Linked DNA regions of Homo sapiens. The protein of the gene in region 1 interacts with the protein of each later gene in a pairwise test. Each region holds a gene or a part of one and is shown on either strand. Other genes may lie near its edges. The genes, in order: HAT1 and ZSCAN4.

What was found.
Region 2: the proteins of HAT1 (region 1) and ZSCAN4 interact in binary tests that used the Homo sapiens proteins (3 or more experiments, as listed by UniProt).

Annotation. Positions count from the first base shown.
Region 1 is NC_000002.12:171,955,391-171,971,262, forward strand, and holds part of HAT1 (histone acetyltransferase type B catalytic subunit), read left to right. Parts: intron 1-9,947; coding exon 9,948-10,127; intron 10,128-10,396; coding exon 10,397-10,518; intron 10,519-11,018; coding exon 11,019-11,123; intron 11,124-11,452; coding exon 11,453-11,559; intron 11,560-15,872. UniProt on the Homo sapiens protein: Histone acetyltransferase that plays a role in different biological processes including cell cycle progression, glucose metabolism, histone production or DNA damage repair. Coordinates histone production and acetylation via H4 promoter binding.
Region 2 is NC_000019.10:57,661,011-57,677,355, forward strand, and holds the start of ZSCAN4 (zinc finger and SCAN domain-containing protein 4), read left to right. Parts: upstream 1-7,924; 5' UTR 7,925-8,193; intron 8,194-9,234; 5' UTR 9,235-9,557; intron 9,558-15,030; 5' UTR 15,031-15,135; coding exon 15,136-15,531; intron 15,532-16,345. UniProt on the Homo sapiens protein: Embryonic stem (ES) cell-specific transcription factor required to regulate ES cell pluripotency. Binds telomeres and plays a key role in genomic stability in ES cells by regulating telomere elongation.

The DNA.
Region 1 (15,872 bases):
CACCTGAGGTCAGGAGTTTGAGACTAGCCTGGCCAACATGGTGAAACCCATCTCTACTAAAAATACAAAAATTAGCCGGGCGTGGTGGCAGGCACATGTAATCCCAGCAACTTGGGGGGCTGAGGCAGGAGAATCACTTGAACCTGGGAGGCAGAGGTTGCAGTGAGCCAAGATCGCGCCATTCATTGCACTCCAGCCGGGGCAACAAAAGCAAAACTCCATCTCAAAAATAAATAAATAAATAAATAAAGGAAATAATGGACTGTTGGTTAGGGCTCAGAATGAAGCTAGGAGTGTAGGAGAGAACACCTGTATCATCTTAGAGAATATATATATAGTCATAAACTTAGTTTTGGTAGAAACACGAACATGAGCTGGATGCGTTGGCTCATGCCTATAATCCCACAGCACTTTGGGAGGCCAGGGCAGGTGGATCACGAGGTCAGGAGTTTGAGTCCAGCCTGGCCAACATAGTGAAACCCCGTCTCTACTAAAAATACAAAAATTAGCCCGGCATGGTGGCGCATGCCTGTAATCCCAGCTACTCGGGAGGCTGAGGCAGGAGAATCACCGGAACCCGGTAGGCGGAGGTTGCGGTGAGCCGATATCGCGCCACTGCACTCCAGCCTGGGCAACAGAGCGAGACTCTGTCTCAAAAAAAAAGTGCCTCTGCTACTGAGGAGAATGAGGCAGGAGGATCATTTGAGGCCAGCAGGTTGAGGCTACAGTAAGGTAAGTATGATCATGCCACTGCACTCCAGCCTGGGTGACAGTGAGACCCTGTCTTTAAAAAAAAAAAAAAAAAAAAAAAGGCCAGGCTTAGTGGCTCACATTTGTAATCCTAGCACTTTGGGAGGCCAAGGTAGGTAGATCACTTGGGCTCAGGAGTTCAAGCCAGCCTGGGCAGTATGGCGAAAACCCATCTCTACACGCACACACGCACGCATGCACACACACACACGCTGACACACACACGCTGGGTGTGGTGGTGTGTGCCTGTAGTTCCAGCTACTCTGGAGCCTGAGGTGGGAGACTGGCTTAAGCACGGGAGGTGAAGGTTGCAGTGAGCCAAGATGGTGCCACTGCACTCCAGCCTGAGTGACAGAGCCAGACCTTGTCTCCAAAAAACAAACAAACAAACAAAAGAACTGCCTCTGGTTGGTGAGGGCTTAGAATAAAATGAGGAACATGTATTTGGCAACTGGAGAAAAGGATATCCTTGTTCTATAGTGGCAGAAAGCCTAGCTGAGTTATGTCCTGCAGTTCTGTGGAAAGGAGAACTTACTGTAAGCAATGAACTTGGATGTTTAGCTGAGGAGGTTTTCATGGAAAGTATTGGAGGTGTGGCCTGATTTCTGGCTGCTTATAGTAAAGTGATGAAAGAGATAAATTGAGGGAAGAACTGTTAAACAAAAAGGATACAGGACTTGATGATTTGGGAAATTCTTAACCTATCCAGATTGTAGAAGACACTAGTTAGGATATTCATTGTCAGGAAGGTGGAAAGTGTGTTCTGGAGAGAAAGCCGTGAGTGTGACAGGATAACCTTTTGCTAGTGCTGAAGGGATTAGGCACGTGACTCATGGATCTCCTCAGTTGTCTCAGCAAAAAGCTAGGAATGTAGATCTGGGGAACATTTGTGGAGGACCCTCTTGTCTAATGGTATGAACCCTCATGACGTACACAGGCGACTCAAGGGTTTTGAGAATTAAAACTTTATAGTGCAGCTTGGATTGACAGGACAAAATGAAGGAAGGCTGTATGAACTCTCCAAATTTCACAGGCAGGAAACAGGCTAATAAAACTGCTCAGCTGCCAACATGTGCTACCTTTAAAGAAAGTGGAAGAATGACTCTGAGGGCAAAGCTTTGGGTCCAGAGGGTGGAGCTGCAGGCCACAGTTATTCTTAGGCCTTGAAACCTAATGGAGTTTGCCATGCTGAATTTTGAAATTGCTTGGTGGCAGTGGCTCCTTTCTTCCTTCCATTTCCTTTTCTGGAATGAGAGATTCTATAACTGTTGTCCTATGCCTGTCCTACCATTGTCTTTTGGAAGTGATACTGTGTTTTCTAATTTCACAGGTTCATAGATGGAGAGGAATTTTGCCCTAGGATGTATCATACCCACAGTCTTACCTATGATGAGAGGTGTGACTTTTGAACTGACTATATCTAGATGAGATTTTGGGCTTGAGTTGATATGGTAATGGTTGAGACTTTTAGGAATGTTTGGATAGAATGAATGTATTTTGCATGTGGGATGGACATGAATCTTTGAGGGCCTTAAGAAAATTATATTTTAGGCTTGTTCTGTTTCCGAGCATTCCTCATTTAAGGGCATTGAAACTTCACCATTGATTTTTTTAAAGATTAAATCCCATTTTGTCACTAAATCATATTTATAAAATTGAAAGTTAATTCTTATAGCAAAATCTCTTTTCTTTGCACTTATTAATCCAGCAAGTTTTAGTAAATTATATCTGATATACTGTTGGTAATACTGTGCTAGACACAAGTATGGAAAATGAAATATATTACTTCATACTGTATGTCATAACTTTCCTCTGCAGAAGTAGCAGTTCCTAAAGAATTAACAATTAAACCAACTTTTTCAGGGCTTTAAACTGATTTTAACTGTTGACTTTACCTCTTTTGCCACCCCTATGCCCCATCTATATTTTTGGTTAAAACCTCCTCTCATTACTGGAACTGACTTACTTGGCCCTTTTTTATTATTTAAATTTTGAGGGATTTGTTATATTTAAAGGTTTTGCCCAAAGTCATACAACTAGTAAATAATCAGTATTGTACTAGGAGATGATTATTTAGTGTTATTATGCATAATATATAATAATATCCTGATTAAAAGATGTTAGGAATATTTATGACCTGTTCTAAGAGGATCCAGGCTCTTGGGCTTACTGCTTTTTCTCTCTCTCTCCCGTTATTTTTTTTTTTAATTTTAAGTTCTGGGATACATGTGCAGAACTTGCACGTTTGTTACATAGGTATCTTTCCCCTTTTGACCATGTGTTTTTCCCCCTCATTAAAAAAAATATTTTTTTAATTTTTAATTTTTTGTAGAGACGGGGTCTTGCTATAGTGCCCAGACTGGCCTCAAACTCCTGGCCTCAAGCAATCTTCCCACCTTGGCCTTCCAAAATGCTGGGATTACAGGCACAAGCCACCGTACCCAGCCTTCTCCTGTGTTTTATGCCATGTGCTCCCAGTTTACTGCTATCATTGTAAGGAGCTTCACACTAGCAAACCCCTTATGGTTAAAAATACCATATTGGTAAGCTTGATGGAATCTGATTACTTCATACTGTATGTCATAACTTTCTTTTGCAGAAGTAGCAGTTCCTAAAACATTAACAATGCCACCAACTTTTTCAGGACTTTAAACTGACATTAACTTCTGACTTTACCTCTTTTGCCAACCCTATGCCCCATCTATAAAACTAATTGTGCGTAGCATGAAAAAGATCTGAAATAGTTTCATATAATATGAATTGTGCATAGCATGAAAAAGATCTGAAGTAGTTTCATATTCATTATTCAACTTTAGTATTAGAAATATTTTGAGTTCTATTTGGTTTTTTTGTGTGTTTTTCCCCACTTCCCAGCCATGTTTGAGATGACTGAGCTTGCCAGATAAATAATATGTAACTACATTTAATATTTGTTTTATTTTATATAGTTTGTTTCCCAGGATAACTTTTGAAATTGTGCAGATACAAAAGTGATTCTGAGTAATACTGTAGTGGTTTGATGTTTGAAAAGATGTAATCTTAGATAAACTAGCATTTAACACATTTATTAAAATAGAGTTTTTTCATAATCAAATATGTAGATTGCTAAATTCTCCAGACCCAAGCCCAGCTAGATATTCTTATTAAAAATGCAGGTGATGTTTTTCCTTGTGTGTAAACCCACTGTTGGAGGGTTTTTGTTTTTTACAGTTGCAGCTGATAGCACTGAATTGATTTCTTCCAAAGGAACTATTGATTTAGTTATAGATAAATCTTTTAAATATTTCATGCAGTGAAAATAGCTGTGTATTTGCATTGACATCTAATTGTTCCATTCTTGAAAATTAGGTTTTTCCATTTAGAAATACTGTGTTAGGAATAAGGAATCAATCTTTTATAATGTCTCTTTGTAGAGTTACTTATTTGCTTTGTGGTCAAAGATCATTTATATTGCGTATTCAAACAAAGACTTTTTTCCCCTTATTAAAAACGATTGGGTAGGGGATATGTGGGTCATGGGCTTGCTTCTTCTATCTCAGTTTGCAGTGAGTGTTCATTCCATAGTGCCTTCTGTGTTGTTGATGCCAGCGATACAGTGGCAGACAAAGTCATGGAGCTTACATTCTAGCCAAGAGGAACAGTCAGTAAACAAAATAGTAAATACACAAATTAAATTCAGGCAGTATTATGAAGATACATTTTGCTCATTTCTGAATGATAAAGGAGGAACCAGCCATGTTATAATCTGAGGGTAAAGCTTACTAAGATACAAAGGCTCTAAAAATACAGCATTTTTGGCATTTTTGTAGTCCAGAAAGATTACCAGGGTTAAATCATTGTGGTGATGGAGAGAGGGGTAGGAGATGGTTGAAGGGGATGCAAAGCTAGATCATCATATAGGATCTTGTGTTCTGTGATAGGTGTTTGCAAGAAATAAGAGTAGTTGGCATTCTTTAGAGGCATTCTTAAGTAGGTGGAGGTCATAAACAATGTGATTTATATTTTTAAAATATGATTCTGGCTGCTGTGCAGAGAACACACTGTATAGGGCAAAAGTGAAAGAAGAGACCGGAACATTGCAGTGTTAGAGGTGACACTGGACTTAGTTGTCAGAGTAAGGAACATTTTGGAGGTCTGCTGTTGAATTAGATGTGACAGATGAAGAAAAAAAACGAGAACCCCATTGCCCAAGTTCAATTATGGTACTGTTAACTGGGAAAACTATAGAAGAAATAGGTTTAAGTGGAAACAATAAAAAAATTTTATTTTGGATGTTAGGTTTGAGTCTAATATATTAGGGCTTTGCAGATCATACTGCATAGATGGTCAGCAGCCATAACATCTGCTTAGAAGTTATTTCTTATTAGGATTATGTCATTACATTAATTTTTAATCATCCATTCTTTTACTTTTCCAAGCTGAATGCTCTAGTTGCACCTAAAATTCTTCAGTCACAATTAAGATGCCTATAAAATCTCTACTAGCCACCATCTTTAAAGGAAACATAATTCTGAATTTTACAATACAATAAACTTGATTATTCAGACACTGATGATTTTTTCATCTGGTTGTCCTTGACCTTTGCTTTTATTAACACCTCCTGCTCTGTGCTTGTAATGCCAGCTACTCTGTAGGCTGACTCAGGAGGATCATTTGAGGCCAGGAATTTGAGACCAGCCTTGGTAACATAATAAGACCCTGCCTATTAAAAAAAAAAAATGCTGAACGTGGTGGCTCAAACCTGTAATCCCAGCGCTTTGGGAGGCCGAGGTGGACAGGTCACTTGAGGTCAGGAGTTTGAGACTAGCCTGGCCAACATGGTGAAACCTCATCTCTACCAAAAGTGCAAAAATTAGCCAGGTGTTGTGGTGCGTGCTTGTGGTCCTAGCTACTCAGGAGGGTGAGGCAGGAGAATCACTTGAACTCGGGAAGTGGAGGTTGCAGGAAGCCGAGTTCGCGCCACTGTACTCCAGCTTGGGTGACAGAGCAAGACTCTGTCTCAAAAAACGAAAACAAAAGCTAGGCATGATGGCATGCTCCTGTAGTCCCAGCTACTTGGAAGGCTGAGACAGAAGGATCTCTTGAGCCCAGGAGGTCAAGGCTGCAGTAAGCTATGGTTACACTACTACATTCCAGCCTAGGTGACAGAGCAAGACTCTTGTCTTAAAAACAAAAACCTCCTGCCTTTTCTTGGGGGTAATTTCATTGCCTTTTAGTGAAGTAGTGGGTAACTAAGATTGTTGTCTTGCTAATTGCTAGCATTTCTGGGAAAAGTTTGGTACAGGAAGTTGAAATAGATGGATAAAGTTTGTATTAACTGTGAATTTCAGTTATTTTATCCTAGTGTCCCACTAATTGGATTGAATTTGAGAGGATATGAGAGCAGATTTTAAAAATTTTATGGAGTGTTTAGCCTCTTTCTAGGAAAATCCTACATACTTCCAGAAATTTCGAAAAAATCTTTGGTAGACTAGTAAAATTTCAAATTGTGATGGTGTTCTTGATAAGTAATACTTTTTATGAAATATCATAAAGAGCTTTAAAAGTATATATTGACAAGTTTATCTTGTTTAGTTCAAGTAGCAAAATACTAATGCAGTGTAAATAAACATAATATGACCTTTGTTTTTCCATTAGTGAAAAAGTTCACACTTTTAATTTCTCAACAATACATTCTGTAGTTAAAGCTTAAATATTATCAGAGAACATGAGATTGAGAACATTAAGTAGATACAGAATTTCTTTTGCTTGTTTTTTTTTTTTTTAGCATATTTTAGGTAGTCTTAGAATTATAGTTAAGTCTATGTACCACTTTAGCCAAGTAAAGAACAACATGTTACCACCTACTTAACGTGCCTTTAATTTCAATCTCAAAAATAACTAGACAAATTTAGACAAATGGTGCTGCTTAAGATAAGATGTTAGAGAGGTTATTGGGTTTTCAAATGTGTATAAATACAAATATAAACATTAAAAAAATAGATTACTAATTATCAGGCATATCGCTTTATTCAATAATGAGGAAATGCAAAAATTGCTCCATATGAACATGTTCATGTGTAATAAAGTACAGAACACTGGAACTTGAAATGACCATAGTTAAATAGTATACAATCTAAAAATATTTCATAATGACCCACCTACCAGAATATCTAACTAGAATACTTTTGCACTTTCCTTTTTAAAAATAAATTACCAAGCGTTAGGAAACCATTTGTAAGAGATGTCTTTGTTAATTAAATATATCAGGTTGTATTCTGGTTTCTTTTTTTGAGACGGAGTCTCACCCTGTCACCCAGGCTGGAGTGCAGTGGCGCAGTCTTGGCTCACTGCAACCTCCGCCTCCCAAGTTCAAGTGATTCTCCTGCCTCAGCCTCCCAAGTAGCTGGGATTACAGGTGCACACCACCACGCCCAGCTACTTTTGTATTTTTATTAGAGACAGGGTTTCACCATGTTGGCCAGGCTGGTCTCAAACTCCTGACTTCAGGTGATGTGCGTATTTTGGCCTCCCAAAGTGCTGGGATTATAGGTGTGAGCCACCATGCCCAGCCTGGTGTCTTTTTAAAAATTTTTTTGAAATTCTAGTTCCCTGGTGTGTCTAGTCAGCTGAATTTCTTACCCTTTCTATATTTCTGTATAATTTTAGTTGAAGTTTAGAATAATGCTCTGGAATACAGGGAATTTTTCAGTGATCTTCAGAAATAGATTCTAAACTTTTAGCCACAAACATTGGAATTAAAAAGTTTCTGTTCATTTTTAACTCTATTCAATTAACAATGATTAAATGAGGTCTTGCTCTTGTGCTGATTTTATTATCTGATCAGTAATCCAATCTGAAAGACGAATATTTTAAATTAAACTAAATTATATATTTGAGAAAAGAGTACAGATCTCTAAGACATGGTAGTCAGGATTTTTTTTTTTCTTAAAGCAGAATCCATTTAATAGAGAAATGCAGACATTTTCCCTTTAGTGAAGCGAAGTTGTAAATTCTAGGTTGAAGAACTATTTGGTTTTAAGTTGTATATTTTATGTAAGTATATCAGATACATATTTATATACATAACTATTTATAAATATATATTTATATAATTATATAAAGATTCCTTGCTTTAAAATTGCCCTTTGCCCCGTAAAAATTCTTAATGTGTAAACTTACACAAAGCAAACTATTTTATTTGAAGATATTTATTACAGGAAATAGACATCCTTTGAAGGCTGAAAGCCCTTTTTCAACTTTGTTGGGCTCAAACCTTCTGGTTGCTCTGCCCGCCACCAAAAGTGCTACTTGAAACTTAGAGTTTCTGAGAAGTCTTTGAAGTAGATTTGATACAAGATATGTAAAGTGATTTGCAATGCCTTCTTGAGAAGACAGGACATAAGGAAAGTTTTTAAAAGTTAAAATTATACATGCTATGAAAGTCTTAAAGTGATTTTTAAACTGATAGATTATAAATCCCTTTTTAAAAGTAGTTTTTCTTGGCTTTTTAAAAACCTTAACTAACATACTATACTGTTTTACTCATCACTACTTTGGATTTTAATTGCTACACAACACATCTATTACAGCTATCCCTCATTATGACAGTTTCCTTGATAGCTGTTGAAATTGTACTGATACTATAAAATATGCTTACGATGGCCTCTTCATGTTAGCAATTTCAAGGAAAAATATTTATCAAATAGTACTTTAAAAATAAGCAAAAACTGTCCTATGAAATGCAGTTTATTTGATCTAGAGTGTGAATGAGTTGCAAGGACTGATGTACATATTAGAAATAAACTGTTGGGCAAAATGCTGAAGAGCTATATTTTCAATAATAGGTCTTTTTTATACCTATAAACAAATTATATATAAATGTTGGTGGTACCAGAGCATTGAAAATAAAACTTGTTTGTGATAAACGTCATCACTGGTTCTCTATCCTGAAATGTAACTGAATCATAATAAAGTGCTATTCATCTGCAGGTGCATTGCTTCTACTTAGTTAAAAGATGGTTGAAAGGATAGGAATTAGTAGCATGTTGTATTAGCCTTTTGTAGTGTATTTTGTCCTAAGCATCTTAATTTCCCTGTTTTGAATGCTAAGTAGCAAGGGTCTTGGTTTAGAACTAATACCCATCATGCATGTAAACGGTATGAAAGAGCTGCTTAGTAAGTTAACACAAAGTGTTCTTGTGTCAGTCCTTGTGGAAATAGATACAATACAAACATTACAGCTGAACTCACGGCAAACTCCATTAAGTAAAAACCTGGCCTCATTGTTCAGGAAAAAGTTTGAATAGAATACAAGCTCATTTTGTTGAATGTAATGTCAGGCTTTTAGGGACTGTATTGAGGGATAAGGTTTTGTTAAGTTGAGACCAATTCATTAAGTTTTATTGCCTGGTGAGAAGCAGCAATACTTTATTGTAAGACTTCATCAAATATTCATGGTTAAAGAGAAGTAGTAAATGTATTCAATCAAGTGGTCTTTTGGGATTTTGAAAAGGATTATGAAGTCTGCTCAGCTGATAACATTGATAGAGGTTGTTTAACAAGGGTAATTTTAATCTCCGAGTTTAGTTTTGTTGTCCAGTCTTGTCTCTTTTTTACTGTCACAAATCCAGGTCTGTAAGAATTGTGTCACATTCTAAGGATAAAAGAATGATATATCCATTCATATAATTTATGTTATTTCCTAAATATGTATATTTTTAAGTTATCATCTTAGTTTGAGTTTGGCATATGAGGGAATTGTGACCCATCTAGTTGTGAGATTGCTATTCATTTGGTCAGACTCTAGTCTCATCTCACCACTGCTGGTGATCTTTTCATGTCTTGGATAATATGATTTCTTTGACACATATAAAATAATAAGCAACCTTTTGCCTTGGCCAGTTCAGACTGTCATGAAGGGGTATAGTCAGCTGTTTCTGCATAATGGAAATGTCCATAGCATTGCCCTTATTATTGTACTTGGTATCAGGTCACCTGCCTTCTCTTATTTACTTTTATATTATGCTCATCTCAGTTTTGTGTGATGCAGTTTGTGCACAGGAAGCTCATCCTTTTCCAATTCGCTGTGTGTTTACTTCTTTAGTTTTCAACCAAAGTTTTGTAATTTGTGTTGGTTTTGTCAGTTTTAAAGAAATAAACCATATTCAACTTAAAGTCGAATTTGTTATTAATTTTTTATATCCTTTATTCTTTAGGCAGATGATGTTGAGGGCAAAATTAGACAAATCATTCCACCTGGATTTTGCACAAACACGAATGATTTCCTTTCTTTACTGGAAAAGGAAGTTGATTTCAAGCCATTCGGAACCTTACTTCATACCTACTCAGTTCTCAGTCCAACAGGAGGAGAAAACTTTACCTTTCAGATATATAAGGTAAAGATAAATCTAAATATTTATTGAGTAAAGTTCTATTTGCCTGAAACCTGTATGTAGTTTTGTTGTCAGTGATTTATTCTAACTGCAGTAAACAAGTTTTAATCAGCATTATAAACCAAGATCTATTTTGTGTGTATGTCTGTATCTATGTTCACATCTTAATCTGAGACTTCTAAACATTTTCCCACAGGATAATTTTGTGTTCTGCGGACTTTCACTTACCTTTGTGATGAGTTTCACCTGACTTTTCCTGGCTTTTTCCCTAGGCTGACATGACATGTAGAGGCTTTCGAGAATATCATGAAAGGCTTCAGACCTTTTTGATGTGGTTTATTGAAACTGCTAGCTTTATTGACGTGGATGATGAAAGATGGCACTACTTTCTAGTGTAAGTACAGTTCTAAAGCAACAGTAGACCTTATTACCTCCACAAAGCCAGCATTTTAATTGTGGCAGCCCAATTATTGGGACAGTATAATGATATTTTTCCCAGGAAAGAAAAACTATTGTTTATGAGGCTTGAGTTTTCCTTCATTATGCTTTGGGAGACCTTGAGAATAGAGCTGAATTAAATGCTGTTGTCCGTTAGGGCCCTGAATGTAGGCTTAAACAGTAAAATGAGCTTTGCCTGTGTTTTCTTTTACTTGCCACCTATTCATCTTTATAATAGGCAAGTGCACTGAAGTGATGTAAAGAGGTCTGATTTATCCAAGTTGCTGCACACCAATTAAGTGAATTGTACATTCAGAACATAGCAGGTGTACCCATTGGGCCCTCACAGAGTAGCTTGCTGACACTGAAAATTCAGTCAGAGAATGGAAAAGAAAATGGACACTGCATGGGAGCGCGACTGTAATTGACCTGCTTGGCTTTCTGTTTTATCTGCAGATTTGAGAAGTATAATAAGGATGGAGCTACGCTCTTTGCGACCGTAGGCTACATGACAGTCTATAATTACTATGTGTACCCAGACAAAACCCGGCCACGTGTAAGGTAATTGGCAGTATAACACGTGCCTTGTCTTTTATTTCAGAAGAAGGAACTGCTGAAGTTTCCAATACTTGTTATAATAGTGTTGATTTGTTTAAAAAAAAAATCACTATTATTCATGGGCTATGTACTGATTTATTTCATTGTTCCCTTTGAAACAGTGTAGAAGATTAAACTAATTTTGAGTATCTTGATAATTTTTGGGTATCTCAAAGGTGGATTGAAAAAAAGATCACACAAACTTTAAAGTGTTTGTAATACTATAGTGATCTGCAGGTTTTAAACTGGTCATGTTATGATATTTTAATTTTAAAATAATTTCTTTACTGTAGTCAGATGCTGATTTTGACTCCATTTCAAGGTCAAGGCCATGGTGCTCAACTTCTTGAAACAGTTCATAGATACTACACTGAATTTCCTACAGTTCTTGATATTACAGGTATGTAAAATTTGATTTGTTACTGAAAGAGCCTTTCTAAAAATGTCTTCTTACTGATTGATTTTATTTTTGTCAGAAATAACTATTTTAAACAGCAACATTTTCCTAGGGTGTTTAAGCCATCTAAAGATGGCTTAAGTTTATGTTTTAGAGCATAAGCCTTTGTGGGGATTGGATTACATCCCTAACTGTGAAGTGCATAATGGAACAAATTGAAGATAATGAGCTGAATATATATGGGGAAGTCTTGGTCAGGCGTAAATACGTTGAAAGTATGGTATAACTTATTTGTTCACTTTATTTGGCAAACAGTTGCATTATTTAGAGGCAGCCTGCACTTTAATTTACATGTAGGGGCAGAATATTATAAACTTTACTGAGAAAAAAAGTCAAGGTAAATACTTCTTGAATAGAATACACATTTCCTAAAGTGTGTGTTTTGTATTCCTAAAATGCATGCCTTCACAACAGTAGTAGATAAGGTGAAATGTAGGCCTATTTGTTTTGGAAATGTCTTTCAGTATGGATTAGCCATAGAAGTAGTAGTATGAATAGAATGCTTAGGAGAAGGAAAGACGACTTACTCGACTTACTCGACTTGACTCTTCAAAAGGAGAAGGCATTATTAGATGGAGTTTCAGATAATATGTTAAAGTGTGATCCACCAAAAAACAAAGTGGCCCAAGGAATATTTATGTTATTTTCTAACTTTCAAATTTGTTGTTCATAAAATTGCTGATGAAACTGAAAGTTACCTTTTTCTTTTATTGAAAAATACTTTACCAGATAGTTACATGCAAATTGGTATTAAAATTTATTAATCTTACAAGTTTGAATTTGGATACATCTTTGTTACAAACTATACTATTTAACATGCACTAAAACATTAACATGTTAAAAAATGCTATTTGGGAATTTTGTTTAAAGACACCACCTCCCACCCACCCACCCCCACCAAAAAAAAAATGGTTGTAAGACTGGCAACCACATAAATAGGCTAGTAAGCAGATTGTTTCATCCTTCTTTATATAGACTAGTAATCCAAGGTAAATAAAATTGAAGTTGCTTCAGAACAGTGAATTGATCTGTAGAATAATAAACTGGAGGGAAAGCACGTTGTCTTTAAAAGGGAGTTTCACATTTATAGAGGTGAATTATCTTTTCATCTGACTTTCCTGCTACTGTTAAATGGGTTGGAAACTCAGGAGATAAAGTAGTAGTTACTAAACTTCGTTTATAACAAAAGTTATAAATTGTTTAAGCGACAACTTCACTAGCTTAGTGACTTATAAAATTGTAGAAACATAATACAGACTATGTCACTTCTTTTAGTTGAGCAGAAAATTGTTTAGCTTCTATTAACTTATAGAGCTTAGACTTGCTGCTACATGAAGGGACATTTTTGGTGATTTTAATGTGGAGTTCACATAAGTAGTCTTTGTCTACTCTAGTGGGTAATGTGCCAGCAGGGGTTGTTTCTCTGAAGCCTCTTAACCACTTTCTTCTGTCTACTCCAACCAATAAAGTCCTTGATACTTAGCACCAATTAGCAGATAAAGAATTTTATTTCTTAAATCTCAGTGAAGAGTCATCAATAATGGTAGCCTTTATTCATTGGTGTTATTCATTAGAAACTGAAGTCTCTAAAAAGAAAAGACTAAACATGCTAAAGGACTTCTGAATTTGACAACTGGGTATTGGCCTTTATTTTCAGCATTAACATTTCTCAGCATTTAAAAATACTAAAAATGCCTTATCAGCTGTTCTCATTAAGATATTTATTTCTCCTAGATTTCCATACCCAGTCCTTAAAAAACAAAACTGCAGATTTTTCTACTCTTCTGTCATTTAGTTGCCTGTTTCTCCATTATTGTGTGTGCTTTTTTAGCTTTGTGGTTCTTTTGCAGGCTCTGGATCTCCATTTGCAATCCAGAATATTCTTTATATTGAGATGGCCTTTTGCTTACTTGACAGATAGCCAGATCTAATAATAATTGAAACTTCCTGTAGATGGCCTAAGTTATATCTTACTTCCAATGGATGGGTGTTTGTGGTATAATTGCCACCCATTTTCATTTTTTTGCACTCAATTTTAAGGTAAAATACTGGCAGACAATTCCTTGTATACCATCTGCCTTTTGAAGATACTATTCTCTTAAGATGTACAGCATTTGAATACATCTCAGTTGTATAACTTTATAAATAGAATCAATGATCTTGTTTCCTCTGGACTTCTGAAAGGAGTTGCATTTGGCAATAGAAATCGATTCTGGGCTGGAATACATATCAGTATTATTATCTATCAGTAGTACATTAAGAGCTAATTATATTTGTCCTTTAAATGTACTTTATTGTTCTGGGATGTGCCATATAGCTTTTTAGAATATTATGTGAATTGTTTATAACTTAGGTGATTGTGCTGTTATCTCATTTCCCTTCTTTAGAATATGATTTTTTATCACTAATATGTATGTTAATATGAGAAGCTTTAAAAAAACGATTGCTAGATGATGTATTACATTTAGAAAAAACTCAGTTTTTGATCCTGCATATCATTGTAGATTTAAATTCAAGAAAATTTTATCTTTAAATATGTTGCTTATCTTTGTAGCATAGAAACAAAGGAATTGAAGGATGTCATACATTATTGGGTGTCGTTTTAAGTTCATTTCAGACTGACACTTTCAAAGGGCTTAAAGATTGAGTGGTGACTTGGTTCCTTATATTAAGCTGCAAACAAAGTATTATCAGTCATAATGGCTTATTTAAAACTGGAAATTTTTTTGCATGTTTTTTGACTTATGTGAAAATTTCAGGTAAAAATGTGGCCTGAGTAGTTTTTCTCAACTGTAACTCATTTTCCTATGATACCTATTTCCTAAACTTTTCTGAGGGTATAGAAGTTACTTAAAATTTCACTCAGCTGGTTACAGTGGCTCATGCCTGTAATCCCAGAAGTTTGGGAGGCTGAGCTGGAGGGTTGCTTGAGCTCAGGGGTTCAAGACCAGCCTGGGCAACATAGGGAGATTCCCGTCTCTATAAAAAAATTTTTTTTAATTAGCTGGATATGGTGTCACACACCTATGGTCCCAGCCAGCTACTTGGGGGACTGAGATGAGAGGATCGTTAGAGCCCAGGAGGTCAAGGCTGCAGTGAGCTGTGATTGCGCTATTGCACTCCAGCTAGGGGGACAGAGCGAGACCCTGTCTTAAAAAATACACACACACTTTGGGAGGTCGAGGCAGGTGGATCACGAGGTCAAGAGATCGAGACCATCCTGGCTAGCATGGTGAAACCCTGTCTCTACTAAAAATACAAAAAATTAGCCAGGCGTGGTGGCATGCACTTGTAGTCCCAGCTACTCGGGAGGCTGAGGCAGGAGAATCACTTGAACCTGTGAGCCGAGATCCTGCCACTGCACCCCACCCTGGTGACAGAGTGAGACTCTGTCTCAAAAAAACACACAGATTCACACACACATACACACACACAGCCATACACACATACACTAAATGTTAGTTTAAATCAGTATTAGCAATGCAGTTTCTTTTTTTTTTTTTTTTTTTTTTTTTTTTTTTTTTTTTTTTTGAGACGGAGTCTCCCTCTGTCCCCCAGGCTGGAGTGCAGTGGTGCGATCTTGGTTCACTGCAACCTCCACCTCCCGGGTTCAAGCAATTCTCCTGCCTCAGCCTCCCAAGTAGCTGGGACTACAGGTGCGTGCCACCATGCCCGGCTAATTTTTGTATTTTTAGTAGAGACGGGGTTTCACCGTATTGGCCAGGCTGGTCTCGAACTCCTAACCTTGTGACCCTCCGGCCTCGGCCTCCCCAAGTGCTGGGATTACAGGCGTGAGCCACCACCCCTGGCTGCAATGCAGTTGTTTTTCTCAACCAATTTAGAAAGAAATAGACTTGGAAAAACTGACATTGGATAAGCTTGTACCTCATCTATTAGTACTTGAAAAAATGTGGCCGGGTGCCATGGCTCACGCCTGTAATCCCAGCACTTTGGGAGGCCGAGGCGGGCAGATCACAAGGTCAGAAGATCGAGACCGTCTTGGCTAACATGGTGAAACCCTGTCTCTACTAAAAATAAAAAAATTAGCCAGGCGTGATGGTGGGCGCCCTGTAGTCCCAGCTACTTGGGACGCTGAGGCAGGAGAATGGCGTAAACCCAGAGGTGGAGCTTGAGTGAGCCAAGATCGCGCCACTGTACTCCAGCCCGGGTGACAGAGCGAGACTCCGTCTCACAAACAAACAAACAAAAAAATGTTTTACAAGAGATACTTGCTTAAGCGTTTGTCTCTAGTAGAG
Region 2 (16,345 bases), on another chromosome or scaffold:
TATTCATGCCCACACTATGTCTACTGACCTACATTTTGTTACTTAAATTCATTTTAAGATTTCTCTTCCAAAAGTTTTCCAGTTATTCTCCTCTTTTGATTCATTGATCCCCTATATTTTTATTTTACCAGTAATTTCATAACTTCTCTTAATATTAAAATATTTTAATGAATATTTGGAATAAACGTATGTGTCTATGGTGAATACTCACTGGGACACACTATACCCCTCCTTCTTCCACAACCTCAACCTAAGGAAGGAACACTGTCTACAAGTGGTGAGGATCCTTCCAGATAGATTTCCATTAATTTACATAAATTTTGCAAGATCTCCCTTAACTCACCTCTGCTTGACTTACTGCTGAGTAAATTCTTTCTCCATATTCCCTTCATGTAACGTGCTAATCAGTGACCATAAATCACACATGATTGTTACTGGTAGAATCAATGCTTTCAACTCCAACACGTCTGTCTCCACAGGTTGATGTATATATTTATCAACAGGGAGTTTTCTCCTCCCAAAAGTAATGCCATTTGCTCTATTTATTCAATGGCATAAGTGGTTTACTGTAATAAAAACTACTAAACTATAATCACAAAAAGGAAAACTTTTTATTTTTATAAAGCCTAAATAAAATGTGCCAGAAACAAAAATTAGAGATTCTTTAAAAATGCTATTGAGGTAAAAGTGAGTGATAAAAGTAGACCTGTATAAATACAAGTCTGTGAATATTCTGTACTCAGAATTTTGACATCTTTAAGTGTTTTAGCTTACTTTAAAGAACTACCATGCTGGGCGCGGTGGCTCACGCCTGTAACCCCAGCACTTTGGGAGGCTGAGGTGGGCAGAAAATCTGAGGTCAGGAGTTCAAGACCAGCCTGGCCAACATGATAAAACCCGTCTCTACTAAAAATAAAAAAATTAGCTGGATGTGGTGGTGCACGCCTGTAGTCCCAGCTACTCAGGAGGCTGAGGCAGGGGAATCACTTGAACCTGGAAGGCAGAGGCTGCAGTGAGCTGAGATTGCACCACTACACTCCAGCCTGGCCAACAGAGCGAGACTCTGTCTCAAAAAAAAAAAAAGGAAAAGAAAAAAAGAACTGCCAATTGTAAATTTGTAAATCATGTTTAATTATAGTTTATGATAGAAAATAAAAGAAACATAAAATTTCTTACAGAAGAATTTAACCCATAACAAAGTTTGAGCAAAGTAATACAAGCTACAATTAAAATAAGTCATTTCAATTTCATTTGAATGTGAGCCAAACATTTTATGTTTTTATTTTTTTCTCAGGATTATATCTTTTTATATGTTGTATTTTTTTCTTTTATCTGGCTATTAACAATAGTAAAGTGATTGATAACTTTCTCTTTTACATTCTATGTATTTAAATATCTTATTTAGATTATTTTAATTTGCAATTATTTTTCATTAATATTTCATTTTATTAAAAATTGCCTTTTTTCAGTGTTTACATATTAATGGCTTACTTATCCAAGATTGTAAAAATATACAAATATTTTTACCGCTGAGAGATTTGGTTTTTTGTTTGTCTGTTTTTGTTTTTTGAGAGGGAGTCTCACTCTATTGCCCAGACTGGAGTGCAGTGGCACAATGTCAGCTCACTGCAGCCTCCTCCTCCTGGTTCAAGTGATTCTCCTGCCTCAGCCTCCCATGAAACTGGGACTACAGGCTTGAGCCACCACGCCCAGCTAATTTTCGTATTTTTAATAGAGATGGGTTTCACCATGTTGGCCAGGCTGGTCTTGAACTACTGACCTCAAGTGATCCACCTGCCTTGGCCTCCCAAAGTGTTGAGATTACAGGCGTGAGTCACTACACCCAGCCTAAGACTATTCTTTACTTTGGGTTTTTTGTTGTTGTTGTTGTTTAACAGGCTGTCATTTGTCACCCAGGCTGGAGTAGAGTGGCACGATCTCAGCTCACTGCAGCCTCAACCTCCTGGGTTCAAGAGATCCTCCTGCCTCAGCCCCTTTTCTGCCCCTCACCCCCCACCCCCAATAGCTGGAACTACGGACGTACCACCACTTCCAGCTAATTTTTGTACTTTTTGTAGAGACTGGATTTCATCATGTTTCCCAGGCTGTCTCCAACTCCTGAAATCAAGTGATCCGCCCGCCTCGGCCTCCCACAGTGCTGGGATTACAGGTGTGAGCCACCGCACCCGGGATTGTTATTCTTCACTTTGAATCCCACATGTTATTTAAAGCTAAGACCTGAGGCAAAAAAAAATCACTTCTATATTTCAACTAATACTATTTTATTACTAGGTAATAAGTCCCAATATTTACATTTATGTACACATACACACACATTTCCTTTCTATACCATTAAGATAATGGTAGACCTTTATGTCAGGAAAATGCTATAGGCTGGGGGCGAGTGGCTCACGCCTGTAATCCCAGCACTTTGGGAGGCCGAGGCGGGAGGATCACTTGAGCCTAGGAGTTCGAGGCCAGTCTGCACAACGTGGTAAAACCATGTCTCTAAAAAAAAAAAAAAAAAAAAAAAAAAATTAGCTGGGCGTGGTATCATGAGCCTGTAATCCCAGCTACTTTCAGCTACTCGGGAGGCTGAGGTGGGAGGATTTCTTGAGCCTGGGAGGCAAAGGTTGCAGTGAGCCCAGATCCCACCACTGTACTGCAGCCTGGGTGACAAGAGTGACAACCTGTCTCAAAAAAAAAAAAAAAAAAAAGCTATTGGTAATTGAATTTATCTTTATTGAACAAATCCTCTTCATTGCATGCTTTAAATTTTGATTTGTTTAAATTTTATTGAATTGTAATAAAACGATTTTGAAATTACTAGAGAAGCCCAGGCGCTGTGGCTCACGCCTGTAATCCCACCACTGTGGGAGGCCAAGGCAGGCGGATCACCTGATGTCAAGAGTTCGAGACCAGCCTGACCAACATGGTGAAACCCCGTCTCTACTAAAAACACCAAAAAACAATTAGCCGGGCTAGCTGAAGGCACCTGTAGTCCCAGCTACTCAGGAGGCTGAGGCAGGAGAATGGCTTGAACCCGGGAGGCGGAGGTTGCAGTAAGCAGAGATCGTGCCATTGCAGTACAGCCTGGGCGACAGAGAGAGTCTCCGTCAAAAAAGAAAAAGAAGAGAAAAGAAAAAGAGAAAGGAAGGAAGGGAGGAAGGGAGGAAGGGAGGACGAGAGGAAGGGAGGAAGGGAGGGAGGGAAAAGAAATTCCTGGGCAGATGAAAGTGAGGGGTCGGGGGTCGGGGTCGGGCGCGGCGATGCCGCAGCTGCGGGGCTCGGTGGACTCGGCGAGCAAGAGCCCCAGGACGCTGCTGGCGGCGGGCGAGGAGCTGGGGCGCGGCGCGGGGCGGCTCTAGGCGCTGTGGCCGCTCAGCGTCTGGGACCCAGCGCCGCCCAGGTCAGGGAATCCTTGGTGTTCCCGCCCCGCAGCACCCGGGGCGGGGGAGGAGTCGGCGCGGTCGTGCGGCCGTGGAGGACAGCGAGACCCGGGGCTGCGGCTGCAGGCCGAGGGGCCCCTGGGACAGTGAGAAGCAGCGGCGGGAGCTAGTCACGGGGCAGGGAGCGCTCAGCGGTAAAGACGGCTTCATCTGACTCCAGGGCTGGCAGGCGGCCCGGATGGCATGCCGTCTCCTGCGGAGAATTCCAATTTCCCCCTAAATCGCTCAACAAGCGAGAAGGTTTTGGGATTCGAATTCAGTGGGGCAAGCGAAGTCGCCTTTCCTTCTTAAACAGATGGAATCCCTGGTCCACAAACGTACCCTGTGCCAATTTCATACAACACGCTATGGCTGCTGCGGATGAGAACACAGCAACTCTGCCAGATGAAAAGCTTCAAGGCTCTGTGAATCCAAGGTCAAAAACGCCAAAAAGGAAAGTCCTTTTCCAGGACAAGCGCACGCGTGCTGGTCGTGGAGCGCCCCCTCCTCATGGAGACCGGCCTGGGATTGATGTCCTTCATTAACAATGAGGCTAAACTGGGCTATTCCATGACTGACCAGGGGCAAAATAGGCTTTTAGCCAGCGGCATTCTGGGAGCTCTCCCCACTAAGAAGGCCAAGGGATGTGGGGTCTGAGAGCCTGGCAGTCCTCATGCAAAGCCGCTGCTGGCTGGAAGCATAGGGGTCTTTTACCTTTTGGGATCTCTGCACGATTAGAATAGTAAAGTGGATAGTAATTGCATATTGCACTCTGCTAATGCAAGCTACAGACAAAAGCAAAAAGAATCTAGCTGCCACTGTGCTGCTAGGATTCCATTTTCTGTAACTTCAGTTCTGATACTTTTCCTGGAGTGTATCTACTTGGCTTCTGGCGGTTCTTCCCATCCCAGCCACTCCAGCAGGCTAAATCCCGCAGCACACCCCTTACCATTTGTGTAGGCTGCTAAATACAGGGAGGCACCTGGTATCTCCAGTGTCTGCAGACACAAATATGTTTACACTTGGTGTCAAATTTTGTATTTTAAATTTTAATACTTTTTTTTTTAAAGCTCATACAAAAGCAGCCAGCAGACAAGTTCACTGACATCAGTCTGCACCTGTCAGCTCCTGGGTGAATCATTGTTCTTTTGTAAATGTGTGTTTGACCTAAAGTCACCCTTTTTCTAAAATTAATCCAAGGCCGGGCGCGGTGGCTCACTCCTGTAATCCCAACACTTTGGGAGGCTGAGGCGGGTGGATCACCAGATCAGGAGTTCGAGACCAGCCTGACCAAAATGGAGAAACCCCATCTCTACTAAAAATACAAAATAAGCTGGGCAGCCCACGTCAGTAATCCCAGCTACTCCGGAGGCTGAGGCAGGAGAATTGCTTGAACCCGGGAGGTGGAGGTTGTGGTAAACCGAGATCGTGCCACTGCACTCCAGCCTGGGCAACAAGAGTGAAACTCCGTCTCAATAATAATACTGATACTTAAAATATCTTTGCGAGGCCCAAGTAGGTTTACAGAAAATCATCTTAGGACAATTTTTTAATTTGAGAAAGTCACTTTGGCAGTTCTTTGCACACAATTTTGACAAGTGTATGTATTATAAGTTGTATTGTATTCATATTTAAAAGGAAATTGGGTAGTTTGCCTTTTGAAGAATGCGCTTTTTAAAAAGGAACCATATCAGATCCTTATGAAGCAGCCGATGCCTGCCATGGTTCCTACAGGTCCTGTACAGACTCGGGGCTTTGTCCAAGTCTCCACTAAACATGCTAAGCTTCGATGCGCCCTGGAGAATTTCCACGGGGTGATCCACGCACCTCCATGAGATCCTGCAGCTTGCTTGTATGACTGGAAGCATTGGATAAGCTTCGCGTGCTGGCTCTCCAGTTCTTTCCTTCTCTTTACGACTGTTGTAGCTTTTAGCTAATGGAGTGGTGCGGTCCAAGTGCGGCCACCTACGGGAGGTGCAGGGCTGCCTCGGAAGCTGGCAGGGGACCCCAGTCTTTGCGTTCATAAAGACATTTAGAACCGGATGAATGTTGTTCCTTTTTTGAAGTTGTTATTAAAGTAGGTGCAACAACCAAAAATCAATAAATAATAAATAAATTGACTAAATATTTTTTCTCAAAAAAAAAAAAAAAAGAAAAGAAAGTCACCAGGTGTGGTGGCTCACGCCTGTAATCCCAGCACCTGGGGAGGCTGAGGTGGGCGGATCACCTGAGATCAGGAGTTTGAGACTATCCTGGCCAACATGGTGAAACCCCGTCTCTACTAAAATACAAAAATTAGCCGGGTGTGGTGGCGCATGCCTTTAATCACAGCTACTCTGGGTGCGGAAGTTGCAGTGAGCCAAGATCGTGCCACTGCACTCCAGCCTGGGCGACAGAGCAAGACTTTGTCTCGAAAAAAATAGAAAGTTAACAGTTTTGTTTATTTTCCTACCAGGTTTTTATTATTATTATTATTATTCTAATTGAAATCACTGTTTCCTACATACTGAGGCGGATTGGCTTTGTCTTCTTGGAAACAAAGGTTATTTTCCTCACTCACACTGGAGCGGGGATACTCACCAGACACAAGTTGAGATGATGCTGGATGTAAACGGGTCATCTATTTTTACCAAAGGCAGCACTACCTGCCTTCCCAATTGATCAGAAAAGCATTTGATAGTTGTCTTTGTAATATCCTTATTTGATTAAATTACTATGTGGATTTCACATTTATTTTTATTGTTTTGTGCCTGTTTATTCTATGCCTAAGTTGGGGTATCACCAGGTCATTTCCTCCACCATCTGTGTTTCCCCAAGGATAAATCCTCCTGCTCATGCCCTTCACTCCTCCATTAGCCCATTCCCTAGAAAGCTGCTGGTTTTACACAGTGGCTGTGTGTCTTTGCCTTCTTAATGTAGCATTCAGAGTCCCACTCTGGAGCCAGGTATCAAATCCTAGCCCAGCCACTTACAGGCTATGTAGCACTGGCCAAGGTACTGAACTTCTCTGTGCCTCTGTTATTTTGATGTTAAAATGGAGTTATTTAGGATCTACTTTACAGGACTGTTGTGATGGAAATGGGTTAACATACAGAAAGCACTGAGAACAGAGTCAAATATGCCCTGACTGCTTAAAGGTTAGTTATTATGATCCCTGATGCTATTACTACTCTTACTGATATCATCGTGCCTCAGGTCTAACTGCTCCCAGAGTTACACACCAGCATGTCCAACAGCTGGCTGTATATCTGAACTCAAAAATCCAATAACCTCCTCCAAACAGAAATTGCCAGCTTTTCCCCAAACCTTTTCCTTACAGCTCCTTACAGAGCTCAAGGAACTCCTTGAGACTGCAGAAGCAGACAGGAAATGCTTTCAACCCACCACAAATTAACAACTGGCCTCCAGTGGTACTCACATTGTCTACATTTTTCATTGTTTTTTTTTTGTTTGTTTTTTGTTTGTTTGTTTGTTTGTTTTTGAGACAGAGTCTCACTCTGTCGCCCAGGCTGGAGAGCAGTGGTGCGATCTTGGCTCACTGCAACCTCGGCCTCCCAGGTTCAAGTGATTCTCCTGCCTCAGGCTCCCGAGTACTTGGGATTACAGGTGCCTGCCACCATGCCTGGCTAATTTTTGTATTTTTTTAGTAGAGACGAGGTTTCATCATGTTGGCCAGGCTGGTCTCAAACTCCTGACCTCAGGTGATCCACCCGCCTCGGCCTCCCAAAGTGCTGGGATTACAGGCATGAGCCACTGCGCCCAGCCCATTTTTCATTGTTGTAGCAGAGAAGTATCCCTGCTTCCATCAAGAGCCAATTTTCCTGTCACAGTTGGTTTAATGACATAGTTGGTGACAGGACCTAAACCACCAGTGGAAAATTGGCTCTTGATGGGAGCAGGGATACTTCTCTGTATGGAGTATATGTGGATGAAACTCCTTGGAGAAATGGACTAGTACACAGTCTTATAATGTGAGGATTCAGAACATAATTCCTAATGTGGGGAAGTCAAGCAGACATTTCATCAGTGGAGTACCAGGAGATTCAAACTCTGTACCCAACAGTGATAGGGGGACAATCTAAGCCCCAAGAGGCTGCATGCCTGATGGAGCAGATGAAACACATGGCTGTAATTAGCTCCCACCCCTTCGATACGTTCTCAACTCCACCAAAGCCTCAGCCTGTATGAGGGTGGAAAGTGGGGAGGGAGAGTGCAGGGAAGAAGGCACAGCTTCCACCACACTAGGTGACCAGGCGCTTCTCACCATTTTAACTCCTCCATCTCTCTCAAGCCTCATGTTAAGTCTATCAAACATCATATGCTTTCTCAATATAAAATATGCACCAATTTCTCCCTTTCCACTGATATAATCCTAGTCTCAACCCCTGTCATCTTTTTGATGGATTAGGAATGCCTTCTCTGGGTCCCGGGCCCCCTCTGTTTCACCAGCCTGGAATTGGCACAGGAGTCACAGCATTAGCCTTGCCCTCTGCCACCCTTGTAATTCATAAATCTCTGAAAACTTAAAAGTTTGAGCAAAAGTTTGTCATGTTTCTATGAGTAATTTATAATAAAACTTGATCAGAATTTGTGAGACTAACGTTTGTCTTTATATTTTCCTTTTTTTTTTTTTTTTTTTTGAGACACAGTCTCGCTCTGTCGTCCAGGCTGGAGTGCCGTGGCGTAATCTCGGCTCACTGCAACCTCTGCCTCCTGGATTCAAACAATTCTTCTGCCTCAGCCTCCTGAGTAGCTGGGATTACAGGTGCATGCTACCACGCCCAGATAATTTTTGTATTTTTAATAGAAACCGGGTTTAACCATGTTGGTCAGGCTGGTCTCAAACTCCTGACCTCATGATCCACCTGCCTCGGCCTCCCAAAGTGCTGGGATTACAGGCGCGAGCCACCACACCCAGCCTGTCTTTATATTTTCATTTAATGTGGACCTTGTTACATTTTACCGCAGATTTTGTATTTTTGTGTGTGTTTGTTTGTTTGTTGGTTTTTGAGACAGTCTACCTCTGTCGCCCAGGCTGCAGTGCAGTGGCACAATTTCAGCTCACTGCAACCTCCGCCTCTGTGGTTCAAACAATTCTTCTGCTCAGCCTCCTGAATAGCTGGGACTACAGGCACGCGCCACTACGCCTGGCTAATTTTTGCATTTTTAGTAGAGATGGGGTTTCACCATATTGGCCAGGCTGGTCTCGAACTCTTGACCTCGTGATCCGCCCACCTCGGCCTCCAAAAGTGCTGGGATTACAGGCATGGTTTTTTTTTTGTTCGTTTTGTTTTGTTTTTTTTTTAGAGACTTGGTCTCCTTCCATTTCCCAGGCCAGAGTTCAGTAGGGCGGTCATAATCCACTGTAGCCATGAACTCCCTGGCTCAAACAAGCTACACAGACATGCCACCATGCCTGGCTAACATTTTTAACATTATTTTTGGTAGAGACAGGGTCTTGCTTTGTTGCTCAGGCTAGGGATTCACAGAGTCTTGCTCTGTCTCCCAGGCTGGAATGCAGTGGCGCAATCTTGGCTCACTCTAGCCTCTGCCTCCCAGGTTCAAGTAATTCTCCTGCCTCAGCCTCCCAAGTAGCTGGGATTACAGGTGCCCACCACCATGCCCGGCTAATTTTTGTATTTTTAGTAGAGAAAGGGTTTCACCATGTTGGCCAGGCTGGTCTTGAACTCCTGATCTCAGGTGATCTGCCTGCCTCAGCCTCCCAAAGTGCTGAGATTACAGGTGTGAGCCACTGCACCTAGCCTGCAGAAATATTAATGTGTTTGTTTATGACCTGTTGACCCAGGACCAGTGATGGTATAGAACACTGTATTAGAGACATGGAGCTGGGGCTGGATGAAGATTCCATCAGTAATTCAATCAACAGACAAGTGTTATCCAATCACGTCTTTAAATCAATCACTGACATGGAGCTGGGGCTGGATGAAGATTCCATCAGTAATTCAATCAACAGACAAGTGTTATCCAATCACGTCTTTAAATCAATCACTGATCCCAGCCCCTATAAAAGGGAGCAGCCTTAGGAGGCACATCAGATAAACCCAGTGTGGAAAGCTAGTCACACATCAGCTCAGTGTTCGGCCCGGGATTACCCAGTCAACCAAGGAGGTAAGCTTCCATAATGGAAGGAAAATTTTGTGCCTTTGAGTGTGTATACATTTTGTGTCTTTGAGTGTGTATACATAATTTTGTGTCTTTGAGTGTGTATACATGTGTATGTAGGCATAGCTATTTCAGGAAAATTCCTAACTACAGAGATATGGGGGTCTCCCAGGTGTAGGGAATGGTCTTTTGTTACAACAGCTCTGACCCAAAAGGGCTTGATGTTGTGAACTCTGTATAAAGGCCTGGTGTGACTGAAGATTTTTCTTCAAAAAGTCTATCGTATGACTTTATGTTCTAGTAATTCTTTTTTTTTTTTCGAGACAAGATCTCTATCACCCAGGCTAAAGTTTAGTAGCCCCAATCACAGCTCACTGCAGCTTCAGCCTCCCCAGGCTCAAGTGATCCTTCCACCTTAGCTTCCTGAGCAGCTGGGACCACAGGCGCACACCACCACACCAGGTTAATTTTTCTATTTTTTGTAGAGGCAGGATTTTGCCATGTTGCCCAGTGTGGTCTCAAACTCCTGGCCTCCAGTGATTTGCCCACTTTCAGCCTCCAAAAGTGCTGGGATTACAGATGTGAGCCACTGTGCCCAGCTTAGTAATTCCTTTGTATTGCATTATATGAAATATGTAGCTGGGTGTCATTAGAGATCATAAAGCCCAGGATACAGACCCAGACCTGACGGGTAGCATGCCTGCGTCACAGTTTGTAATTGCCAGACTCCAGATTAGAGCTCCGGTAGCCTTGTTTTGAATTCCCAGGTTCTGGGAAATAAGCCATAATACTTTGCAGTCTTGTCTATGTGGGACGGAGTGCATGTCTCCAAGTGTGAACATGTGGTCTGTGTGTCATAGGGGAGAAAGGGTGGGTAATCCAAAAAGAGAACTTGGAGGGAAGTGAAATGAAGGGGAAGCCATGGGTTCCACAGGAAAAAAAAAAAAAAAGAGAGAGAGAGAGACCAATGTCCCTGGATATAGAGAACCAGCCACAACACCTAAGATGGAGCTTGAGAAGTGTAGAGCTGGCCCAGGAAAGCCTCGTAGGACAAGGACTCAGTGCTTTTCCCTGAGGGCAAAGGGGAGCCATCCAGAGAGTAGAGTGGGGTATGATGTGAGCAGATTAGCATTTTATAAACGTTGACTGGAAGCATTATGACAACTGGGTTAGGGAAAGGCAAGAATGTGTTCCATTGTCTCCTAGGAGATTTTACCAGGATCACCTCTGCCTTATTAACTGATGCGATCAGGGTAGCAGATCTGGTCTAATCAGACCAGATGAGATTAACACAAAGCAGGAAATAACATTAACTAACAGAAATCAGTTAGGTTTTTGTGTGTCCACGTATTACTCCTACCATTTTCTGATTTTATGGCATGAAATTTGCTTTTTTCAAAATTGCACAAATCTTTGAAATGTTAACCATATATAAAATTGGAGAAAAAACACAAAAATAGCAATGATATATTAACAGAAAAGGGATTAAATTCTTTATCCATTCAGGATTTCAAAGGGTGTGTCTCTAGTTGTCCAGATAATCTGATTTGGGATTAGAAATCAATTTCAAGCAATGCAAACTCACTTTTACTTCTGAATCCTAAACATCAGTAGGAAAGGACAGGGAGTAAAAACAGATAAACATAAAATAGTAGCTTTGGTTAAAGCAGTAAAGTTCTAAGGAATGGTAACTGTTAATGGGAAAAAAATTCAAGCAGAAAAGGTGCTAAGAATGTTTCCTAAGGAATGTATCCTTTCACAACACAGTGGGTGTAGCTGGTAGTGGCCTTGCAGATGTCTGTGCCTAATAAGTTTTCAGCCAGAGAAAGGTGTCATTTGTATGGATTCTGGCTTGTCTTTTCTATTTCATTCACTTCTTTCTCTTTTTCTTGTTTTCCCTAGCTTTATTGAGGTATAATTGACAAAGATTGTATATATTTAAGGTGTACAATGTGACACTTCTCTCTCTATATATATGTATACTTTGCAAAATGATTACCACGATCAAGCTAGTTAACATATTCATCACCTCACATAGTTATCTTTTTTTTTTTTTTTTGAGACAGAATCTTGCTCTGTCACCTAAGCTGGAGTACAGTGGCGTAATCTCAGTTCACTACAACCCCCACCTCTCAGGTTCAAGTGATTCTTGTGCCTCAGCCTCTCAAGTAGCTGGGATTACCGGTGCATGCCACCACACCCAACTCATTTTTGAATTTTTAATAGAGGTGGGGTTTCACCATGTTGCCAGGCTGGTCTTGAACTCCTGGCCTCAAGCGATATGCCCACCTCTGCCTCCCAAAGCACTGGGATTACAGGGGTGAGCCAATTATCTTTTTTATATCATGAGAACACTGAAAATCTAGCAAATTTCAAGCATACAATATATATTAGCTATAGCCACCATGCCGTACATCAGATCTCCAGAGCATATTCATTTTTTTTCCCTAGCCTGAGAAGGACATGGTGACATTTAATTAATTAATTTATTTATTTATTTATTTTGAGATGGAGTTTCACTCTGTCGCCCAGGCTGGAGTGCAGTGGCACGATCTCGGCTCACTGCAACCTCCATCTCCTGGGTTCAAGCGATTCTCCTGCCTCAGCCTACCGAGTAGCTGGAATTACAGGTGTGCACCACCACAGCCAGCTAATTTTTGTATTTTTAGTAGAGAAAGGGTTTCACCACGTCTCATCTCAAGTGATACGCCTGTCTCGGCCTCCCAAAGTGCTGGGATTACAGGCGCGAGTCACCGTGCCCGGCCACATATTTATTTTATAAATGAAAGTTTGCCATAGGCATAGTAGCTCACGCCTGTAATCCCAGAAAGGCTAGAGTGAGGAGCAGTCACTTGAGTCCAGGAGTTCAAGACAACCTGGACAAAATAGCGAGACCAAGTCTCGAAAAGAAAATTTTTAAAAAATTAGCTGAGTGTGGTGCGTGCCTGTAGTCCCAGCTACTCAAGACGCTAAGGCAGGAGGATCGCTTGAACCCAGGAGGCTGAGGCTGCAGTGAGCTGTCATGGCACCACTGCACTCTAGCCTGTCTGACAGACGGAGACCCTGTCTCAAAATAAATCAAGTTTGCACCATTTGATCAACATCTTCCCATATGCCCCACCCCATGCCCCTGGCAACCACCCTTCTACTCTCAGTTTCTAATACTTTATTTTCTGATGATGATGATGATTATTATTATTATTATTATTATTGAGACAGAGTTTCTGTGTTGCCTAAGCTGAAGTGCAGTGGCCCAATCTCAACTCACTGCAACCTCTGCTTCCCAAGTTCAACCCATTCTCCTTGCTCAGCCTCCCGAGTAGCTGCGATTACAGGCATGCACCACCACATCTGGCTAATTTTTATATTTTTAGTAGAGACGGGGTTTCGCCATGTTGGCAAGGCTGGTCTTGAACTCCTGGTTTCAAGTGATCTGCCCGCCTCGGCCTCCCAAAGTGTTGGGATTACAGGTGTGAGCCACAGTGAAAAGAGTTTTTTTGTTTTAATTTCAACTGCTTGTGATAACACAATATTACAATATTCAGTTCATTTTGGTTTATTGGCATTGTAATAGACATCTCCCTAAATTCACCTAGGCTAATATTTGGTGAATATTTTATTTTATTTTAGATTCAGGGAGTACATGTGCATGTTTGTTACAAAAGTATTCTGCATATTGGTGGAAATTGGACTTCTAGTGTACCTATTACTTAAATAGTGAACATTGTACCCAATGGGTAATTTTTCAATACCCATTTCCCTCCCAACTCCCCCGCTGGAGTCCCCAGCATCTGTTATTTCCATCCTTATGTCCATGTGTACCCACTGTTTAGCTTCTACTTATAAGTGAGAACATGCGGTATTTGGTTTTCTGTTTCTGAGTTAGTTCACTTAAGATAATGGCCTCCAGCTCCAACTATGTTGCTGCAAAGGACTAATTTCATTCTTTTTTATGGCTGCATAATATTCCATGGTATGTATTTCACATTTTCTTTATCCAGTCAACCACTGGTAGACTCTTAGGTTGGTTCCATGACTTTGCTCCTGTGACTAGTGCTGCAATCAAAATATGAGTGCAGGTGTCTTTTTTTATATAATGATTTCTTTCCTTTTGAGTAGATACTGAGCTGGATCAAATGATGGTTCTATTTTTAGTTCTCTGAGAAATCTCCATACTGTTTTCCATAGAGGTTAACTGATTTGCATCCCCACCAAATTTATTGAATACTCTTTGTAAACAAAATCAAGACTCTATAAATATGTTTGAAATATTTTCTTTCCTTATTTCACTGGTTAGGGAGCAATCCAATGTTTCATAGAGATGATAGCTCAAGCAGAAAACTTTTAACAATAAATTTTGTTGTAACTACTTTATAAAATATTTTTCACATCAAGTTTTTTTTTTTTTTTTTTTTAAGAGTCTCACTCTGTCACCCAGGCAGGAGCTCAGTGGCATGATCCTGGCTCATTGCCACGCCCACTTCCCGGGTTCAAGGGATTCTCCTGCCTCCACCACTGAAGTAGCTGGGTTTACAGGCACGTGCCACCATACCCAGCTAAGTTTTGTGTGTGCGTGTGGCTTTTTTTTTTTTTTTTTTTTTTTTGAGACGGAGTCTTGCTCTGTCAGCCAGGCTGGAGTGCAGTGGCGCAATCTTGACTCACTGCAATCTCCACCTCCCGGGCTCAAGCAATTCTCCCATCTCAGCCTCCTGAGTAGCTAGGACTACAGGTGCATGCCATCATGCCTGGCTGATTTTTGTATTTTTAGTAGAGATGGGGTTTCACCATATTGGTCAGGCTGGTCTCGAAATCCTGACCTCAGGTGATCCACCTGCCTCAGCCTCCCAAAGTGTTGGGATTACAGGCATGAGCAACCACACCCGGCAAGTTTTGTATTTTTAGTAGAGATGGTGCCTCACCATGTTGGCCAGGCTAGTCTCGAACTCCTGACCTCAAGTGATCCGCCCTCCTCGGCCTCCCACAGTTCTGGGATTATAGGAGTGAGCCACTGTGCCCAGCCAAGGATATTTCCTAATAGTTCTAGTTTATTAAGTGCCTTTTTCAGGAATAAACATTGGCATTTAAACATTTTAAATGCATTCATTGAGATGATTTTATTATGTTCTTGTATCCATATCCCGTTAACGAAGTAAATTGCATTGATTTTTGAATTTTAACCCAAACTTCCTGCATTTTGGAAATGAACACCATTTGCGATGTATATGTGAGTAGATTTTATTTTCAAATATTTTGTTTTGGATAATTTTAATGTATTTGTAAAATTTTGTTATCAGGAAGTGCTGACCTCAGTAACTAAAGTGGGTAGTGCTTCCTCTTATATGCTCTGGGAGAGTTTATGTTAAGTTATAATTATTTCTTTGAATTCATCCATAGAGCCATGTAGGCCTAACTTTTTGGTTGATTTGTCTTTAATTATGCCAGTGGTGCAATTAATTACTCATCTCTTTTCTATTTCTAGCTTGCAGTTTTAAAGAATCCACCAACTGTTGAAACAAATCCCTAGAGACACAAGGCAAGAGACTGAATCATCAAAGTAAAGTCTCTCTGAGAATTATTGCTAAGAATGGCTTTAGATCTAAGAACCATATTTCAGTGTGAACCATCCGAGAATAATCTTGGATCAGAAAATTCAGCGTTTCAACAAAGCCAAGGACCTGCTGTTCAGAGAGAAGAAGGGATTTCTGAGTTCTCAAGAATGGTGCTCAATTCATTTCAAGACAGCAATAATTCATATGCAAGGCAGGAATTGCAAAGACTTTATAGGATCTTTCACTCATGGCTGCAACCAGAAAAGCACAGCAAGGATGAAATTATTTCTCTATTAGTCCTGGAGCAGTTTATGATTGGTGGCCACTGCAATGACAAAGCCAGTGTGAAAGAGAAATGGAAATCAAGTGGCAAAAACTTGGAGAGATTCATAGAAGACCTGACTGATGACAGCATAAATCCACCTGCCTTAGTGAGTACAGGGTTCTAACTTCTGGGATGAGAGACAAAGGAAAGTAAGGAATAAATCACAGTCAGTTAGAGTTGTCTGGAAGTTAGAGAAGCTATTGGAGGTCCAGTTATTAGTCAGCTCACACTCTCCCACCATTCTCACAAAGAATAATCTTCAATGTCCTAAGTTCTCAAGAAAAAAAGCAAAAAGGTATATATCTGTTTATTCTGTAGGACATATAGGAGCCAAACATATTGATGTTTGATTAACTTAATTTTAGTCTGCATAATGGCAGACTCTGAGAAATTGACTTTTTGGCATGATATCAGCTCACTGCAACCTATGCCTCCCAGGCACAAGTCATTCTCGTGGCTCAGCCTCCAGAGTAGCTGGGATTACAGGCGTGCTCCACCAAGGCCGGCTAATTTTTGTATTTTTAATAGAGACAGCGTTCCACCATGTTGGCCAGGCGGTCTCGAACTCCTGGCCTCAAGTGATCCGCCTGCCTTGGCCTCCCAAAGTGCTAGGATTACAGGTGTGAGACCAGCCTGAAATTGACATTTAAATGAAGACATCAAGGTTGAGGAAGAAATGTCTTGACAAGAGCTTGTTCTTCTGTCAGGGAACTCTAATCAAGAAAGACATTCTAAAGAAGCAATTACGGTAGATCCTTATTCTCAGAGCCCATATTTGCAAAATTGCTAAAATTTATTTGTAAGCTTAAAATAAATACCTGAGGCATCTTCTCCGTCATTTTCAGATATGTGCAGGTGGTAAAATATTTGATTTACCTTAGGTGCATGTTTCCAGGTGAGGTTGAACAAGGCCACAACCT